Regions from separate parts of the Homo sapiens genome. Here region 1 is linked to region 2. A link means that fine-mapping ties the variant in region 2 to the expression of a gene that starts in the linked region. Tissue or cell type: lung. Region 2 holds a variant in brackets; the other region holds the start of a gene. All regions are shown on one strand. Distances are from middle to middle.

Region 1 (5,111 bases), 240 kb after region 2:
GCTCCGTGGTCATCCCTGCTGCCTCCGAGGCGCGGAGGGATCATTGTGGGCACCAAAATACCCCACCCTAGGACCCCAGCTTCCTCCGGTAGCACCTGGGGGTTAGCGGGGTGGAATGAGTGGGCTCTCCCCCATTTCTCCGCCGAGATCACTGAGGCAGGGAGCAGGTGAGTCGGGGGCGGAGAGATGTGGTGGCCGCGCCTTGCCTGCGTCAGTCACCGCACCAGGAATAGCCCTCGCCCCCGCCCCCGCCCCCCAGCGGGTCTGCGCGCCCGCCGGGTGCCTGGCGGAGCCTTTACGCAGGAGCCAGCGAGCGTCTATTCCTGTCGGGCTGGTGGGAGGAGGCGGCGCGGGAGGGCGGGAGCGCACGGGTAGCTCACAAACAGCCGGGGTGGGGGGGCTGGGGAGTCTGGGGAGGGGTCCAGGCAGCGCGGAGTTGAGGGACCGGGGAGTCGCCTGCGCTGGGCTCTGGCAGGGAGGGGGACTCCTGTGCTGGCCTCCCTGCTTCACCTCCCACCTGTAAGTCCTTCTGCCGAGCCTGCCCCCTGCTGGTCCATTCAGCCATAGAAGACGAGTCCAGTTCCCTTTCCGTGGCTTGCTGGCTGTGTGACCATGGGCAGAGCCTGGAACCTCTCTGGGCCTGGGCTTCCCTCCCTCTGTCACAGGGGAACAATAGTGCCTCCCCCAGAGTTGCTGGAGGGTGAACGTACAGTTCACAGTAGAGCATAGCATGGACGCCTGCTAGGAGGGACTCTAGCTAGGCCTAGGTTGAGGATGGGCATAGACATAGGAGACAGGAGAAAGTGCTCCAGACAGGACTGTCCAGAGCAACGGTGTGCCAGAGAGACTGAGAAGTACCCAGAAATGGTGCAGCTGGAACAGAAGGTCTGTGCAAGCCTTTGGGCTGTGTGTGAGGCTGAACAGCGAGAAACAAGGTGCTGTTGGGGGTGGGGAGAGGTCCCTCCGTGGCAACCAGGCATCTCTGCAATGATGTTGCGCAGGCTTCCTGGGAGAGGGGGTGTCACTGGAACTGGGATTCCAGCGTCTGCCCCAGAATCCGAGAGGCTTTGGGCTAGATCCCCTCCCCCAGCCTCAGCTGCCCCTGTGGACTCAAGCTATTAGGAGTATTCATGTGCTAATGGGTTGTTCCCAGCAGGGGAGGAGGGATGGCCGTGCCGGGCGGTGTCAGCATTGATGGTTATTCTAATAAAACTGGCTTGGTGGTAAAGGGCGTCTGGCTTCAAGGAGATGGAGGGGGTAGTATAGGGAAAAAGGTGAGGTCCTGAGGGTGGTAACCTACTCTGCAGGCTTTGCCAAGACATCCCTGCTGGCCTAGTTTCTGTATCTGAGGATCAAGGAGGATCTGGATCTCCGAGGAGAGGTCCCATTCCTTGGGCCCGTCTGAAGTTGTGGCCCCAGCCGAGGATCCCCGGGACCATTCCGGGAGGAGGGAACAGTCAAGCCCAGGCGGAGGCTCTGCGCTGCCCTCTGCTGGCCACTGGGTGCAGGGCCTCCGGACGGAGCGGGCCAGAGAGGCCTGCCGCCCTCTGCTGGACAGGAAGCCAGGCTGGGCGGGGACCCCGGCTCCTGGGTAGAGCTGCCGGGCCAGCGCGGCTTCCTCGCCGTCCCCTGGAGCTTCCCATTCTGCCTGCCTCGCCCTCCCGCGCTAGAATGTGGGCCCTCTAGCCTCGCGGACTTTCGAGAGGAGGGGACAGGGCCAGGACGGGGGCTCCCGGTCGGCCTCCCCATGCCGCCCTCCAAACAACCCTGTTCGTGTAGGGAGCCCTGTCCGTCCTCGTGCGTGTGTTCGTCCACAGCCCAGTTAACACGTGTAAACACACTCGCGCGCTCACATGCACACGCATGTGGCAACACAAAAATCACACACAACGGTGTGCGCGCATACACCCAGGGAGGACCGCACGCCGGACTCCCCGACACCCGGCTGGCCCGGGACTCGCCCAGAGCCCCGGACCCGGAGGGGCGCGGCCGTGTGCAGAGCTGGAGCGCCTGGCTGGTGCGCCCCTCGCCTGCGCACCCCTGCCTGTTTCGCTGCCCTAAGCGTGCAGGGCAGCGGCTGGGGCGCCCCTCGCTCTCCGCCCCCTCCGCTGAAAGGAGACGAACCACCCCCCACCCCACCACCACCATCACCAGGTTTTGCGGCCGCGCCTTCTCCTCCCCCGCCCGGCTCCCGCGGCTCACTCGCTCCCTCCTCCCTCGATCCCTCCTCCCTCCCTGGCTCGCTCCTAGTGCTCCCTCCCCGCGCCGCTGCAGAGCGCGGAGCCCGAGCGGGAGCCGGCGCGGGAGCCGGAGCGGGCGGCGGGCGACAGCGCAGGCGGCGGCGGCGGCGGTGGGTCCTGGTCCCGGCCCCGGAGGGCGCGGAGTCCCCACCCGCGCCGCTCCGGCCCCTCTCCCGACGCGGGGCGCCGAGCAGCATGCGCGGCCGCTGCCCGCCGGCCCCGGCCCCGCGGCGGAGCGCGCCCGGCCTCGACCCCGGCCCCAGCGGCAGAGGCGGCGGCGGCGGCTCCGGGCCGGCCCAGGGGGCAGAAGCAGGCTCGCGCAGCCCCTGTCCCGCGGCCTGAGCGCGCCCGCCCATCCGCCCGCCGGGGCCGCGGCCTCCCGCCTCCCCACTCCCGAGCCCCGGCCCCGGCTCCGGCTCGGCTCCCGCCCGCGCGGGGCGGACAGACGGACAGCCAGCCCCGCGAGGGCGCGCGGACTGCCGGGCGGAGGTGTCGGAGGAGGAGGAAACGGAGGAGGGGGCTGGGCAGGGGCTGGGGCCTGGTCGGGCCGGCTGGAGAGACATGCGATTGGTGACCGAGCCGAGCGGACCGAAGGCGCGCCCGAGATGCAGGTGAGCCAGGCGGCCGCGGCCGAGCCCCGAGCGGGCAGCCCCGCGGCGAGTGCCCCTGGGGGCCGCCATCGGCCCTGGCTGCGCCCTCCTGGGGTTGCAGGGCACCTCGGTGCCACCCAGACCTCCTTTGGGGTCATAGGCCTGATTTCCCCTCAAGCCTCAGAAATGAAAATTCTTCCTTTTCCACCTCCCCTCTCTCCAACCCCAACAAATTCCGGGTTTGTAAGCTGGGAGCCTGGAGCTGGGGAGGGGCCCCCACGGGTGTCCCAGACCTGCTCTGGTCTCCCCTTCCTGTCCCCCCTCCCATTCTGAGTATTGGTCACTCTAGAGGGTAAGCCCCCTGCTCAGCCCTGGGTGGGTACCTCCCTTCGTGGACCCCAGGTACCCCCAGGCAGCCCCCACCAGCACCAGACACTCCCTAGCTGGTGGACACAGGTCAGGGGCTGGGTTTCTCCACAAGCTCCAGCCTGGATGGCAGCTCCCCACCACACACAAGCATCGCCCCTTTCCAGCTCCTGCCCAGTGAAAAGGAGATGGGGAGTAGGGAGAGTGGAAGGAAGGGAGTTGGGGACCGGGAGCGCCCAGGAACGCTTTAGGGGCCTCCCCTTTGTCTGCGTTCAGCCCGGGCTTCTCACCTCCTCTTGCCCCACTTTTCATTCTAAGGCAGAGCGGGTGGGAGGTGGGAACCAGCTGAGAAGAGGGAGGTAAGGAGGGAGCCTCCTGCTCCCCCTCACACCCTTTTCGGGGTGGGCTGTGGGCTCTCTGCTCTCAAGGCATGCCAGGAGATGTGACCCTCCGGGCGGATCCCACTTTGAGAAGGAGGGGTGGGGCCAGGCCAGTGGGCAGCCCCTCCCGGTTCCTGCTGGGGTCGCAGCCCAGCCTGGTCCAGCCTGACTGTGCCTGCACCTCCTCTTTGTTCTCAGAGGCCTTGGGGTTGGGGTGGGGCAGAAGGGGGCCTGAGAGGATGGGAAGAGCTCTGCCCTGAGCGGGTGGGAGTGCAGGAGGCCCTGAGGTAGGGGCTGTGGCATCTGGACAGCCCCTTCCTGCTCGCCCAGCCCTCCCTCAGTCCTCTGCTTGGTTTGGGCAGCCAGAGGGCGCATAGCCCAGCCTGGCCCGCGGCTCTGGGCTCAACCCTGTTGGTCATTATGCCAGTGGCTTCAGCACTGGTGCCTCCCATGCCCAGGGAGCAATGAGCCGGGACACCCAGGCGGCAGAGAGCCTGGGGCTTCCCCAGATCCAGCGCAGAGTGTCAGTGAGGAGAAGAGGGCCAGCTGCTCCCAGACCCTTTGTCCTTGTATAAGCCAGGGAGGAGCTCAAAATCCTCACGCCTCTGGGAAGGCACTAGCAGCAGGTCTACTGGGATGGCATGCCTGTCCTTCCTGCTTTCTACCCGTGGCCCGAGGTGGGAGGGAGGGTATAGGGTGGCACCGGGGAGAGACCAATAACTCCTTGGAACCGTGCTGAAAGAGGGCACAGACTCACATCGGGGATCCCAGCAGCACCCAGCTGCCCCTCCTGGAAGGGGCTTAGCGAAGGCAGGGACAGGCACCCTGTGGTGTTCTTGTCTCTGCCCCCCTCCTCACCCCCTGACAATTTAAGTGTGAGCCCCTGGGTAGGGCTTAGTTAAAGCTGCAGTGTTCCCCAGGTTCTGGAGTTAAAGAGTGGGAACCAGCTTTTAGGGGGATGGGCATGTGCTCAAAGCCAAGGGCCCTGTGTGACTGGGAGGGAGGTGGAGAGACTTACCCCTTGCGATAGTCCTCTTTCATCTGGGCTCATCTTCATCCTCTGTCCTCTGGGCATCCATTTCTCCTATATTGGGTATTGTTTTCTAAAACCCAGACTCCCAGAGGGACACCTCCCCCACCCCAACCCCCCAAAAAACAACCTCTTGTGGAGGTGGGTGGTTGTTCTGCATGAGGCTAGACGGGATCCCTGGTGCCGGTGAGGGCTCATGTGTGGTGCTGCTCTTCAGGCGCCTTCAGCCGCAGATATCTGGAGAAGCACAATTGGGGTTGGGGCGTGTTCCTGTTGGGAGATAAGGCAGTGCAGTCATTCGTGCAGGGTCCCACGGAGGCATGAGGCAGCGTGTCCAGTGGAGGGTAGGGGAAGTGGAGCCAGGGAAGGGTGGGGGGCGGTGGGTAGTAGGTGTGGTGGTTTCAGAGTCAGGGCCTTAGCTTGCTGGCTGGAGTCTCTTGGGCTAGCTGTCCTGTGTGTGGCACTCTGTGGAAGTGGCCTTCCAGCCCCACCCACCTCCATGGTT
Region 2 (5,196 bases):
ACCTGAGGTTCCTCCCTTCTCTCTAGGGGGCAAGACAGGCCTGGCTCCATGTTGGGTTACCTCAGCCAGGGCTTGGTGCTGACATCACAGTCCCACGAGCCTCCTGGACACTGGCTGGGGTGGGGGCTGGTCTCTGTTGTTCCACTGTTGCTGGAGGGAACCCCAAGGCCAACTGCCACTCTGGTTCCCAGGACCTGGGGGGATGGTGGCCCTGGGCCAGGAGCAGAAGAGGGGCCCTGCCTGCAGGGACACATGGACACACCATCTGGAGGCACACAGGTAGGGGCTGTGCACACACACATGTCCCTTACCGCACACACGTGGAGCAAGACACACACACAAATGCACAGACCCACACCTTACTCCACACACACACACCTGGTACCACCACTGCCTTCAAACGCATGCTTCATGCTAGTCACGGGAAAAAGCAGACGCGACCCACACTTATACCACACATGCGCACAGGCCCCACGCCATGCACAGCCACACCTCTTACTCCCCCCACCCCACCCCGTCCCTCTCTCCCAGGAATCTCATCTCCTGCACAGATATGCACCCACCCAGGCTCACTGGCGCCCCCCACTGCCCTGGAGAAGTAAGTCCACAAACCATGAGATGCCGCCACATCCAGAGAGAGGTGGGATGGCTGATGGGAGGGAGGTCAGAAGAGTCCCTGCATTCCCCCAGGAGAGGGGACCGCTGGCTGCTCTCAGCCCTCCAGCCTGGGGCCTGGCCTCTGGGCGCTGTGCACGTGGTCATGAGAGGGCACTCCCATGAAGACAAGCCAGGTCCCCACTCCTGCTCCCAGCACTCAGAGATGCCCACCCTCGGGGCTGCTCAGGCACAGGAGGACTAAACAGGAGCTCCTGCCACCAGCTCCTTACAGGGTGGGGTCAGGAGCTGGTGGGAGGACACATCCCCCTGAGTCCTGGGGTCAGGGGCCGCGTGGCCTTGCTCACTGGCAGGGAGTTGCCCACCCCTGCCGTTTCTCCCGCTCCCTCTTCCTCTCAGTGCCCACGTCCTCCCATCTGGCCTTTCTCTCCCCCAGATCCTCCCCCATGACTGGCTTTCCTTTCTCTCTCTCTCTCTCTCTCTCTCTCTCTCTCTCTCTCTCTCTCTGGCTCCCTGTGTCCCTGTGACCTGCTTATCCTCTAGAATAAAGATCGACATTTTCAATTACCCCAAAAATAACAGAGCCGTTCTTGGGGCCTGGCGGAGGATGGCTGCACGGGCGTGGGCACGGGCGCTGGTTTGCATGTGGGGCCTGCAGGTGGCGGGGGTGGGGACACCCACGGTCCCACTGTCCTTTGTTTGCTTTTTCTCATCCGGAGCCTTCATTTTTTCCTGGAAGATTGGAAGCACGTTTCCCTTCAGGGGAGGAAGGGAGACAAAAGAGAGAAAGAAAAACTGTCATCGTTGTCTTGTAAACAGCGTAGAGCCAAGTGGGGGCTCGGCAGGAGAGAGGGACACAAGGGAGAGGCCAGAACAGAGAAAGGGGGACGAGAGGGATGGGGTGGGGAGGTGAGCAGGAGCCCCCCTCAAGGCCGGGTGGGTCGGTGTCCTGCAGGAAGGACTGATGGGAGGGGAACAAGGCGACGCTGATCCAGGGCTGTTGGGGGTTTTGAGGAGACACAGCATCTGCTGAGTGCCAGGCAGGCCCCGGGAGGCAGGCGCTATTCTCTGAATCCCACCCTGTGCCAGGCTCTGGGGGTGCTGAGGTGAGTGACAGACATGACTTTGCACTCTTGGGGCATAAACTCTATTGGAAACAAAGTGGTGGCTTCATGTGTTCAGCACTTATATCAATTGAGGCTCAGAGAGGGTGGGTGACCTGCCCGATGACACACAGCCGGAGGTGAGGGGACCAGGATCCCAGCCAGGTCCGTGTGACCGCAGTCTCCTTTCACACCGCCTCTGCTGTGGGCACACTTGGCTCTTGCGTGACCTTGAGCAAGTCCTCACCTCTTGGCCATCAGTTTCCCCATCTGAAATGCAGCCACCATGCTGGTTCTCTGCAGGGCTGTGGGGAGCATCAGATGTCTGGATGTGAAGGACCCTCAGCTCTGGCTCTCCGCCGAGCTGGCTGGCGGGTGGAGGAGCAAAGATCACCAGGTGCGCAGGGAAGGACTGGCCGGCAGGGAAAGGAGGCCGGACCGCAGATTTACTCCCTGCTTC[C/T]GCCCAGTGGCAATAATTGGGTACTGCAGAGGGTGAGTCTGGACAGCCTTCTTCAGCTTGCACAAGGGCCAGAGCAGAAAGGCGCCTTTGCGTGTTGTCTGGTCCTCCCTGGCCCCATTTCGCGGATGCCCAGAGAAAGGAGGGACTCCTCCTCAGGTCATCCAGGGCAGAAGCTTGGGCTGGGCTTTCAGTGCAGTGTAGGGTGCTTCCCTCTGTCCCTGTGGCACTCAAGAAGCCTCCAGTCAGCTTCAGAGCAAGAGAAACAGAGTTCTACATCCTCTGCTTGACGCCACCACCTCCAGGGAGACTTCCAGGGTCTCCTCCAGTAGGAAGTGGCCTCACTCCTGCCCTGCAGTCCCACACTCGAACTCTCCTTGCTCCTCCTCCTCCACCCAACCATGACTGTCCTCCTGCCCGCAGCAAATCAGGCAGCAGGGCCCCTTGAGACACGAGAGATGGTGGAGAACCATTGTCACCACTCAGGGAGCATGTGCCAGGGGCCCACTCTGTCCTGCGGCTCTACCTGCATCCTCTCACTTGAACCTCGTAAGAACCTTGGTAAGTTGGGGTTATTTTGAGCCCCATTTTTCAGGTGAGGAAATGGGCACAGAGAGGTTATGACCTTTACACACAGAGTGGTGGGGCAGGGACTCAAACCCAGGACTGTCTGTTCTCTGGAGAGATGCCCGTGTTTGGAGGTGAAAACTACCCCCGTGGCCATATGACAGTCCACTGTGACCGGACACTGAAATGACCAGTCCAGGGGGCTTGTGGGCTGGGGTCTCAGCTTCACCACTGTGCTGCTGGGTGACTTCGGGCAAGGCCCATTCCTCTCTGGACCCTGGTTCCTCATCTGTGTACTGTGTATGTGCATGCATGCACGTGTGTGTATATATGCGTGCGTGTGTGTGTGTGTGTGTGTGTGTGTGTGTGTTCTGGGTTACCTCAGAGATCCATTCTGGCTCTGAGTGTGGTATGTCCCATCTTGGGCAGATCCAAGGGAGGGCATGAGCAATCTGGCTTTGGGACAGGTATGGGGCTGGCCCTAGGGCCTGGATGTTTCTCCCTCCACTGCCTGCCACAGAGGGGAGTTTGTCTTGCAGGAAACAGCCTCATCCATCACGGCAATGGGGGGCTGACAGCAGCCACTCCCCGCCAGCCCCGGCTGGAGGCAGACTCGTAAATCCCATGCCAGGCCAGGCTGTAAATTCCTGTGATTCACATCCGGCCTCTTGGAGGACAGAGACATTTGGGGCTGTGGGGCTGGCTGTTCTCCCCTGGACAGGTGGGTACTGGGGAGAAGCCTCTTCACGGGCCCAGCAGTCTCAGATGGCCCCTCTGAGGAGATGTGATGCTGAGTCCCCAGGATGCCTCAGGCCCAGCCTGAGCCACCTCTGCCCAGACCACCTCTGCCTGGGCCATTCGTGTGCCCTGGCCCGCATCACCCTGGAGGTCACACGTGTGGACACGCTCTGTGGCCTCAGAGATCTCATGGGGCCTGTGGCCTGGAGGGTTGGCTCCACCAACCCCACAGCGAGGTCTCCTGCCAATCCGCATGGCATTCTGTCTTGGGGCTGTGAGGACATGGTGGGAGATCAGAGCCCAGTCTGTGTATCTCTTATTCCAGGGAGGCCGGGGCCCCGAATCCACTGTCCCTTAGGCAGGAAGGGGACAGGGCCACTCAGGCCAGGGCTGCAGCCATTTGTCATGTTTCATCAGGACTTTTGCTACACTCAGATGCCACTGGAACTCTTCTTTACTTAGCGTTTTTTAAAAATCAGCTTACTTTTAAAATTTAAGTGTGTGTTTTAGCCTCGTCTTTAGCCATATTTGTGAAATCAGGGTCTGATGTACTAGTCAAATACCCGCACACATGTACACATACACATGTGCACATACACGCTCAGACACATACATATACACATATATGTGAAAATATACACATGAAATATATCCATGAAAGTAAACACAAAGTTAAAATAGCAAATGCTCAGCTCCATGTACCATCTAATCCTGCTTTAGGTTTAGAGTGGCTCTATTCTCCCCGCATTATGGGTGATTCCTTATTGGTGAAACAAAGCAGGTTCAGATGGCTCACAGAGCTGAGCATTTACCAGCCATTCTAGCCTTCCCCCATTTTACAGACAAGGAAACCAAGGTCCAGAGAGGTGCAGGGCCTGCCCGAGGTCACACAGCGCTGGGATTAGTGGCCAGCCTGCCTGACTCCCAGCTGAGTGCTCCTTTTACAGAAGCACACTCCCTGTCTGTGGTGTGCAGGGCCCCTTCCTCCAGAAGCATATGTGGACTTGCAGAGGCCTTTTGGAGACTGTGCCCTAACACAGAGGGTTCATCACAAGGTGGGCTTCCTGGTGGCAGGCTGACGGGCAGGCGAACAGTCTCCTGGGTCCTGGTGGGACCAGGCACTGGCCCCTGGCTCTGTCTGTGCTTTATCCTGGTGCTCATGGCTCTTGCAGCGCCTCGGGATTCGGGGAAGTGGGGAAAGGAGAGTCCCAGGGGAGGGAGAGAGCAGGGCTCTGGCAGCAACCCTTCCCCAGGGAGCTGCTTACTGAAGAGATCATTAGTGGCAACGACTCTCAGGCTGGCAAGGAAGATGGCCTCATTAGCAAGCACCTTCCCCTGCGCCACCTCCACCTTCCCACCTGCAGGCTCCTGATACCCACACTGCCACTGCCACCACTGCCATCACTCCAGAGATGCGGCACGATGGGCCTCCTGTTGGGGACAAGGCTGCTAGCTCAAGGGAGCCAGGAAGGAGATGTGTGCAGGGTGGCAAGGGTGCGTGTATGTTGCACACACAGACACACAGACGCCGGCACACAGATATGCTCATATGCATGTACACACATACTGCATTAATAGAGGTGTGCACATAGGTCTAGCGCACACACACACAACACAGAGACTTGCACGGTAACGCGCAACTCCCCAGACACACGGTGCAAGCACACGGATCCAACAGAGACGTGTACACACAGGGGTGGGTTTCAGTGTGAAGCC

The links. PIP is the estimated chance that this variant, and not a neighbour inherited with it, causes the effect.
Region 1: it holds the start of LINGO1, and the variant in region 2 is fine-mapped to the expression of LINGO1 in lung (TOPMed, PIP 0.94).

What each region holds. Positions count from the first base shown.
Region 1 is chr15:77,630,050-77,635,160 of GRCh38, reverse strand. It overlaps LINGO1 (leucine rich repeat and Ig domain containing 1), which reads left to right and starts at 2,249. Exons shown (of 2, transcript NM_032808.7): 1 at 2,249-2,851. The coding sequence starts at 2,846. LOC105370906 (a long non-coding RNA gene) reads right to left here. Exons shown (of 4, transcript XR_001751806.2): 4 at 4,700-4,876. RefSeq lists enhancers at 1,296-1,425, 867-1,430, 4,825-5,111.
Region 2 is chr15:77,867,614-77,872,809 of GRCh38, reverse strand. No RefSeq gene overlaps it. Among named protein-coding and RNA genes, the nearest start is that of TBC1D2B, 210 kb to the left of the region's middle. RefSeq lists enhancers at 741-1,579, 3,444-3,944. The variant C/T (reference allele first, on the strand shown) is at 2,179.